Linked DNA regions of Homo sapiens. The protein of the gene in region 1 purifies or fractionates together with the protein of each later gene. This does not show direct contact. Each region holds a gene or a part of one and is shown in the gene's direction. Other genes may lie near its edges. The genes, in order: ZNF215 and ZSCAN18.

Evidence for each region.
Region 2: the proteins of ZNF215 (region 1) and ZSCAN18 purify together in Homo sapiens (co-immunoprecipitation; 2 studies listed by BioGRID and IntAct, with this or other methods). This does not show direct contact.

Annotation. Positions count from the first base shown.
Region 1 is NC_000011.10:6,936,306-6,940,128, forward strand, and holds part of ZNF215 (zinc finger protein 215), read left to right. Parts: intron 1-3,619; exon of another isoform or gene 3,620-3,710; intron 3,711-3,823. UniProt on the Homo sapiens protein: May be involved in transcriptional regulation.
Region 2 is NC_000019.10:58,091,516-58,095,338, reverse strand, and holds part of ZSCAN18 (zinc finger and SCAN domain-containing protein 18), read left to right. Parts: intron 1-1,940; exon of another isoform or gene 1,941-2,111; intron 2,112-2,554; exon of another isoform or gene 2,555-2,623; intron 2,624-3,823. UniProt on the Homo sapiens protein: May be involved in transcriptional regulation.

The DNA of each region.
Region 1 (3,823 bases):
ACAATACTACTGACTTTGCATAAAATGAAAGGGCTCATAAGAGAATACTAGGAGCAATTAAATGCCAACAAATTAGATGCACTTAGATGAAATTCACAAATTCCAAAAACACAAATGACCAAAACTGACTGAAGAAGAAATAGAAAATCTGAACTCAACTCAGCAATAACAAAAGACTGGTTTAGTTATTTTTAAACTTTCAACAAAGAAAACTCAAAGATGATATGGCTTCACTGGTAAATTCTACTACACTTTTGAAAAATTAACACCAGTATTCTCAAACTCTTCCAAAAAATAGGAGGAACACTTCTTAAGTTATCCTGTGAGGCAAGTATTAATCTGATGCCAAAGCCAGACAAAGACATCACAACAAAAGAAAAATGGCAAACCAAATCCAATAGCGTTTTAAGAGGACTATACAAAATGACTTAGTGGGATTGATCCCAGAAATGCAAGTATGGTTCAACAAATGAAAATATATCAGTGCTGTACATCATATTAATACAGTGAAAGGGGAAAAATTACACGATTATCTCAATTGATGCAGAAAAAGCATCTGACAAAATCCAATGCCCTTTTATGACCAAAAAAAAAAAAAGGACTAGAAGTGAACTCACTCAGCCTGACAAAGGACATTTATGAAAAACCCACAGTTAACATTGTACTTGATAAACTTGATGAAAAAGTGAAAGCTTTGTTCTTAGAATCAGGAACAAGACAAGAATGTCCACTCTTGCCACTTCTATTCAATGTCATACTAAACGTTCTAGCTAGTGCAATTAGGCAAGAAAAAAAGAAAAGGTATCATGATTGGAAAGGAAGAAGTAAAACTATCTCTACTGGCAGATGTTATACTCTTATATATCCAAAATCCTAAAGAACCCAGTAAAAAACTATTAGACCTAATAAACTCAAAGTTGCAGGATGCAAAGTCAACAAAAATAGGTTATGTGCCTATAGCAATGAACAACCCTTAAAAGAAACCAAGAAAATAATTTCATTTATAATATGTCAAAAATAGAGGTGTAGGACTTGTCTGCTGAAAAGTACAAACCATTGTTGAAATTAAAGACCTAAGTAAATCCTGCGTTCATGTATTGGAAAACTTAATATCATAAAGATAACACTCCCCCAAAGCAATCTACAGATTCAAATGCAATCCCTATCAAAATCTCAGCTGCTTTTTTTTTTTTTTTTTTTTTTTTGTCAGAAATGGACAAGCTGATCCTAAAATTCATAAGGAATTGGAAAGGACCCAAGATAGTCAAACTGCCTTCATAAAGAAGATAGTTTTAGAATGTATACTTCTCAATTTCAAAACTCACTAAAAAGCTGCAATAATCAAAGCTATGTCGTACTGGAATAGAATTAAGAGTCCAGAAATAAACTCATACATCTATGTCCAGTTAATTTTTGACAAGGGTGTCAAGGCATTAAATGAGAAAATAATAGTTTTTCAACAAATATTGCTGGGACCCCTTGATTTCCATATGCAAAAGATTGGAGTAGGGGCCTTACCTCATATCATGTACAAAAATTAACTCAAGATGGGTCAATTGTCTAAATATAAGAGCCAAAATCATAAAATTCTGAGAAGAAAATATAGAAATAACTCTTCATCACCTTAAATTTGGTAATCAATGCTTAGCTATGACACCAAAGATACAAGCAACAAAAGAAAAAATAGATAAATTAGACCATCAAAATTAACACTTTTGTGCATCAAAAGATACCATCAAGGCAGCGAAAAACCTACAGAATGAGAAAAAACATTTTGAAAATCATATATCTGATAAGGGTCCAATATCAGGAAAATATAAAGAACTCTTACAATTCAATAACAAGATAAGGAACAGTTTTTTAAATGGACAAAGGACTTGAATAGATATTTCTCCAAAGAAGATATACAAATGGCCAAAAAGTATAGGAATAAATGTTCAGGATCATTAGTCATTAGAGAATTGCAACTCAAAACCATAACAACACCCACTAGGATGGCTATAATAATTACAAAAGGAAAACGAATAGGGTTAGCTAGGATGTGGAGAAATTGTTTGGAATTGTATATCGTTGTTGGGAATATAAACTGGTTCAGCCACTGTGAAAAACACTTTGGTGGTTCCTCAAAAAATTAAACATAGAATTACCATATACCCCAGAAAATTGAAGACACATATTCACATTAAAAAGTGGAAACAACCCAGATGTCCATCAACTAATGAATGAATAAACTTTGCTATATACATACAGTGGAGTATTATTCTGCCATAAAAAAGAATGAAGTACTGATACATGTTAAAAAAAAAATGGATGGACCTCCAAAACATGCTAAGTGAGAGAAGTCAGACCCAAAAGGTCACATACTATATGATTCAATTTATGTGGAATGTCCAGAATAGGCAAATTCGTAGAGACAGTATAAGGAAAGGGAGTGTGTATGAGAGTGACTCCTAAATTAATATGGGGCTCTTTCTTGGTAATGAAAATGTTCTGGAATTAGATAGTGGTGATCATTGTACAACATTATGAATGTATTAAAAACCACTGGATTGTATTCTTTAAAATAGCTAATATGGTGAATTTTATATTATGTGAATTTTGCCTTTTTTTAAACTTAAATTCTAAGCTTAATAGAGAATGAAGTGACTTCACTAGAGCCACGATAGAATGGGAGAAAATTAAAGAATCAATGTAGTGTAATGGGACTCTGATAAAAGTTGGAGAATATACAAAAAGCAAGGAAGTAAAAATTGAAAGGATAGGAAGATGCATTTAGCTATTGATTTATCCAATTTTATACTCATGGCAGGATAGTTCTAAGTAATAAAGACCAGAGTATGAGCAAGGAAGTAGATTGTTTGCTGATGGTCATTAGAGATAAGAAAGTCAAAGGTCTATCAGTCTGGGTTGCTGGAAGGGGTGTCTGTGTCAGTGTTGAAGCAACCTATTAAAAGACTGTCAGGATTTGGGGTGAAAAGCAACAATGTGAAGCAAGTAACTGAAGTTTTTATTGGCCTAGTACAATTACTTTAGTGTTGGTCATTCACAGTACATTAGGCTCTCTGAGGGCAGGTATTTGTGTATCTCGCACATAGGAGATAGTAAATATGTGTTGAAAAAATGAATGCGCAATAGCTTAATATATTACAGCATCAAGAACAGTATAGCTAAATGGCATAGACTAGTAAGAAATATTTTTGCATGAGAGAAAATACTAGGAAGTGGAAGGGAGGTACAAGTAGATCAGAACAATTTCCAAGATCGTAGTGCTTAGAGGATAGAAAAAGGTGCCTTTGATGATGCCAAGATCCATTTAGCAAGGGAGAAGGAAGAGTCTGTAAAGAACTTGAGAATGTATATAGATTTTTCTTTGAATGGAATGAGGGTTTCAGAAAACATGACGGTAAAACTTCAAGAAGGGGAGGTCAGCAGGGAAGAAGTAAGGGAAGAAAAGGACATTCAGAGAGAGCAATAAATAGGATAGCTGATTGGAGAGATTTGCACCTTTCCAAGATACCTCAGGTATTTCCAAGAATGTCAAGAACAAGGAACAACATTGTATTGATTGTCCTAAAGATTATGGAATTGAGCAGATTGACATTCCACAAAGTGTACAGACCTGAATAAAGTTAACAGATCTCAGGACCAGGCTCACACTTGTAATCCCAACTCTTTGGGAGGCTGAGGCAGGAGGATCACTTGAGGCCAAGAGTTCAACACCAGCCTGGGCAGCATTGAAAGACCCTGTCTCTAAAGAAAAAAAAAGAAAAAAAAAACATTATCCAAGTATGGTGGCACATGCCTGTAGTCCTTGCTATTCAAG
Region 2 (3,823 bases), on another chromosome or scaffold:
AGGTTCTGATGAGGGAAGGTTCTGTGCACACACATTATGGAGCTCACAGTTTGTTTTGTGGAGACAGGTTCTCTGCAAGGTGAACAAGCCTCTGGCGTCCTAAGAAAGCCAAAATTACATGCCTGCAGGACCACACCTCTGTCCATGCACCAAGTAGAGCTCTGTGCCTCCATTGCCAGGGGGTAGAGCTGGCGTCACGCCTCCCATCAGGAGAGGCTCCAGAACAGGGGTTAGCGTACCCACCTGCAGGCCAGCAGTGACCTGTTTTGTTTGTATTCATTAGAGACAGGATCTTGCTGTGTCGCTTATGCTGGAGTACAGTGGCACAAACATAGCTCACTGCAGCCTCCAACTCCTGGGATTAAGGGGTCCTCCCACATTAGCCTCCCATGTAGCTGGGACCACAGGTGTGTGCCACCACGCCTGGCTAATTTTTTTTTTTTTTTTTTTTTTTTTTTTTTGCGACAGGGTCTCACTCTGTTACCCAGGCTGCAATGTGGTGTTGTGATCACAGCTCACTGAAGCCTTGACCTCCTGGGTTCAGGTGATCCTCCAACCTCAGTCTCCAGAGTAGCTGGGACCACAGGCATGCACCACTGTGCCTAGCTAATTTTTCTATTTTTTGTAGAGATGAAGTTTTGGTATGTTGCCCAGGCTGTTCTTGAGCTCCTGGGCTCAAGCTGTCCACCTACCGTGGCCTCCCAAAGTGCTGGGATTACAGGTGTGAGCCACCACACCTGGCCACCTGTTTTTGTAAATGAAGATGCATAAGAACATGCCAAACCTGTGGGTACGCACAGGGCTCTGGTTGCTTACTTGCCACGAGGCAGAGTTGAGTAGTTGAAACTGAGACTGTCTGGCCCTTTATATCTGCTATTCTCTGTTCCTGGAGGATGAATAAGAGGATGTATTTCTTTTTTTTTTTTTTGAGACAGAGTCTCACTCTGTCGCTCAGGCTGGAGTGCAGTGGCGCGATCTCGGCTCACTGCAAGCTCCGCCTGCCGGGTTCACACCATTCTCCTGCCTCGGCCTCCTGAGTAGCTGGGACTACGGGCGCCTGCCACCATGCCTGGCTAATTATTATTATTTTTTTTTTTGTATTTTTAGTAGAGATGGGGTTTCACGGTGTTAGCCAGGATGGTCTCGATCTCCTGACCTCGTGATCTGCCTGCCTTGGCCTCCTAAAGGAGAGGATGTATTTCTAATCCCAAGGGAAAGAAACCCTTTTTAAGTGGGTTTCTGAACTCCGAAGTCCAATTTAAAAAATGGTTGAAGGCTGGCTGCAGTGGCTCACTCTTGTAATCCTGGCACTTTGGGAGGCCGAGGCGGGTGGATCACTTGAGGTCAGCAGTTCGAGACCAGCCTGGCCAACATGGTGAAACCCCGTCTGTACTAAAAATACAAAAATTAGCTAGGCATGGGGCAAGTGCCTCTAACCCCAGTGACTCGGGAGGCTGAGGGAGGAGAACTGCTTGAACCCAGGAGGTGGAGGTTGTGGTGAGCTGACATTGTGCCACAGCACTCCAGCGTGGGTGACAGGGCGAGACTCCGTCTCCAAAAAAAAAAGTGATTGCATTAGATAGTAAGAAACATTAGGACATTACCTGTGACCAAAAGACAGCGTGGAGTGAAAAGACAAGCCACAGATGGGGACAGTAGCAAGATAGAGCCAGACAGGGAACTCGTTAACTGGTTGACAGAAAGAGCTGTAAAGAAAAAGTCACGGGAAAGTGGGCAGTTTACCCGCCCTCAGAGATTAAATCATGAGAAAGCGCTCAGTCACAGAGCAGGCAGATGCTTGGGTCTGAGGGTCCTCTGGCAGCAGGTGGAGTGTGTGAGGAGAGAGGGCACCCCGGTGGGGGCTGCCATAAGTAGGTGACGGTCGTGAGGTTGTCCCCTGTGCCCTAGCTATCCTGCTTCTCCATATGTCCTTTAAATAGATCAGAAAGGACCCCACAGAGATGGACATGAGGGTCCACAACTGCCAAAAACAAATGAGGCACAGCCAGCATACCCCTCAGCAGAACTGCACTGTTTGCACAGTCCACACACACTGAGCCAGCTCTGCCCAGGCCAAGGGACCTGCCTGTGAAGAACCCTTACTCTCCTGGGTATGCATTCCAGTGGGGGAGGCGGTCAGTAGGGAGGTAAAAGGCGGGGGCAGTGAGCGGGTGTCAGGTGGGTGCGTGCAAGGAGTGCAGAGGAAAAGTCTCCCGGAGGGGCCAGTTGAGAGCTCAGGCCTATGAGGTAACAAAAGGGTGGGGGTGGGTGCAGTGGCTCACGCCTGTAATCCCAGCACTTTGGGAGGCCCAGGCAGGCGTATCCCTTGAGTCCAGAAGTTACAGACCAGCCTGGGCAACATAGTGAGATCCCTGTCTCTACAAAACAAATTAAAAATTAGCCAGGTGTGGGTGATGTGCACCTTTAGTCCTAGCTACTCAGGAGGTTGGGGTGGGAGGATCACTTGAGCTCAGGAGGTTGAGGCTGCAATAAGCTATGATCATGCTACTGCACTCCAGCCTGGGTGACAGAGTAAGACCCTGTGTTTAAAAAAAAAAAAAAAAAAAGTAGAGGTATCGTGGTGGTGGTGATGATGGCACGGCATGGCTCTGTTCTGCTTGAGGTAAGTGGAAGCTTGTGTAGAATGTCTTCCAACAGCACTTAAGAGTTCCGCACTTCCCTTTAAACTCTGGTAGCCACAGAGAGAGAGGTTGATAGTTGACTCTCTGCAAACTTCTGGTTCTTTTTTTTTTTTTTTTTTTTGAGACAGAGTCTCGCTCTGTCACCCAGGCTGGAGTGCAGTGGCATGATCTCAGCTCACTACAGCCTCCACCTCCCAGGTTCAAGCGATCCTCCTGCCTCAGGCCTCCTGAGTAGCTGGAATTACAGGTACCCACCACCACACCCAGCTAATTTTTGTATTTTTAGTAGAGAGGGAGTTTCACCATGTTGACCAGGCTGGTCTCGAACTCCTGACCTCAGGTGATCTGCCTGCCTCGGCCTCCCAAAGTGCCGGGATTACAGGCGTCAGCCACTGTGCCCAGCCCTGTTTTTTTGTTTTGTTTTGTTTTTTAAACAGCTTATTGAGTGTAATTTACATACTGTGAGGTTTACCTATTTAAAGTGGACAGTTCATTGGTTTTTAATATGCAGTACTCACCGTTGAGCATTTTCACCAACCAAAGAAGAAATCCTGTACCCATTAGCAGTCCCTCCTCATTCCCCCAAACCCCAGCCCCTGGCAACAGCTGATCTACATTTTGTCTCCATAGATTTGCCTGTTCTAGATGTTTCATTTCTGTGGAATCACACACCACACCCCACCCCACAGCGGTGAGGTCTTTGCGCCCCATATTCTGGTGGAGCACTGTCAGAGCAGAACTTGACGACCTGAGAAGGGCTCACAGCACCTGGCCTGGTGTGGTTTACTCTATGGTTTTCCCTATAAAACTGGGCTTGCTGCGGCTGTGGGAAATCCCCTTCCAGCTGTCTCTGTGGACCTTCAGACCCAGGCGGTTCCTGGGAGAAGGTGGACAGCTGCAGTTCACACCCTTGTGTGTCCATAGCCAGTGACATGAGAGCCCGAGGCCGACTGGAGGCCTGGACAGCTGTGACCCGCTGGGTTCTGTTTAGTGAGCTCATTGTTGGTGCACAGTTACAATCAAGAGAGTTCATCCTGAATACTGGCTTCACTTAATGATAGGGCTGCCCTGTATGTGGGGATTCAGCTGAGGGTGGGGCACAGGTTGGCAGGACCTGAACTCTCTCAGTCATTGTGGTCTCCCCCACCCCCCACCCCCCATTGTCCTTGCTCCTGGGTACT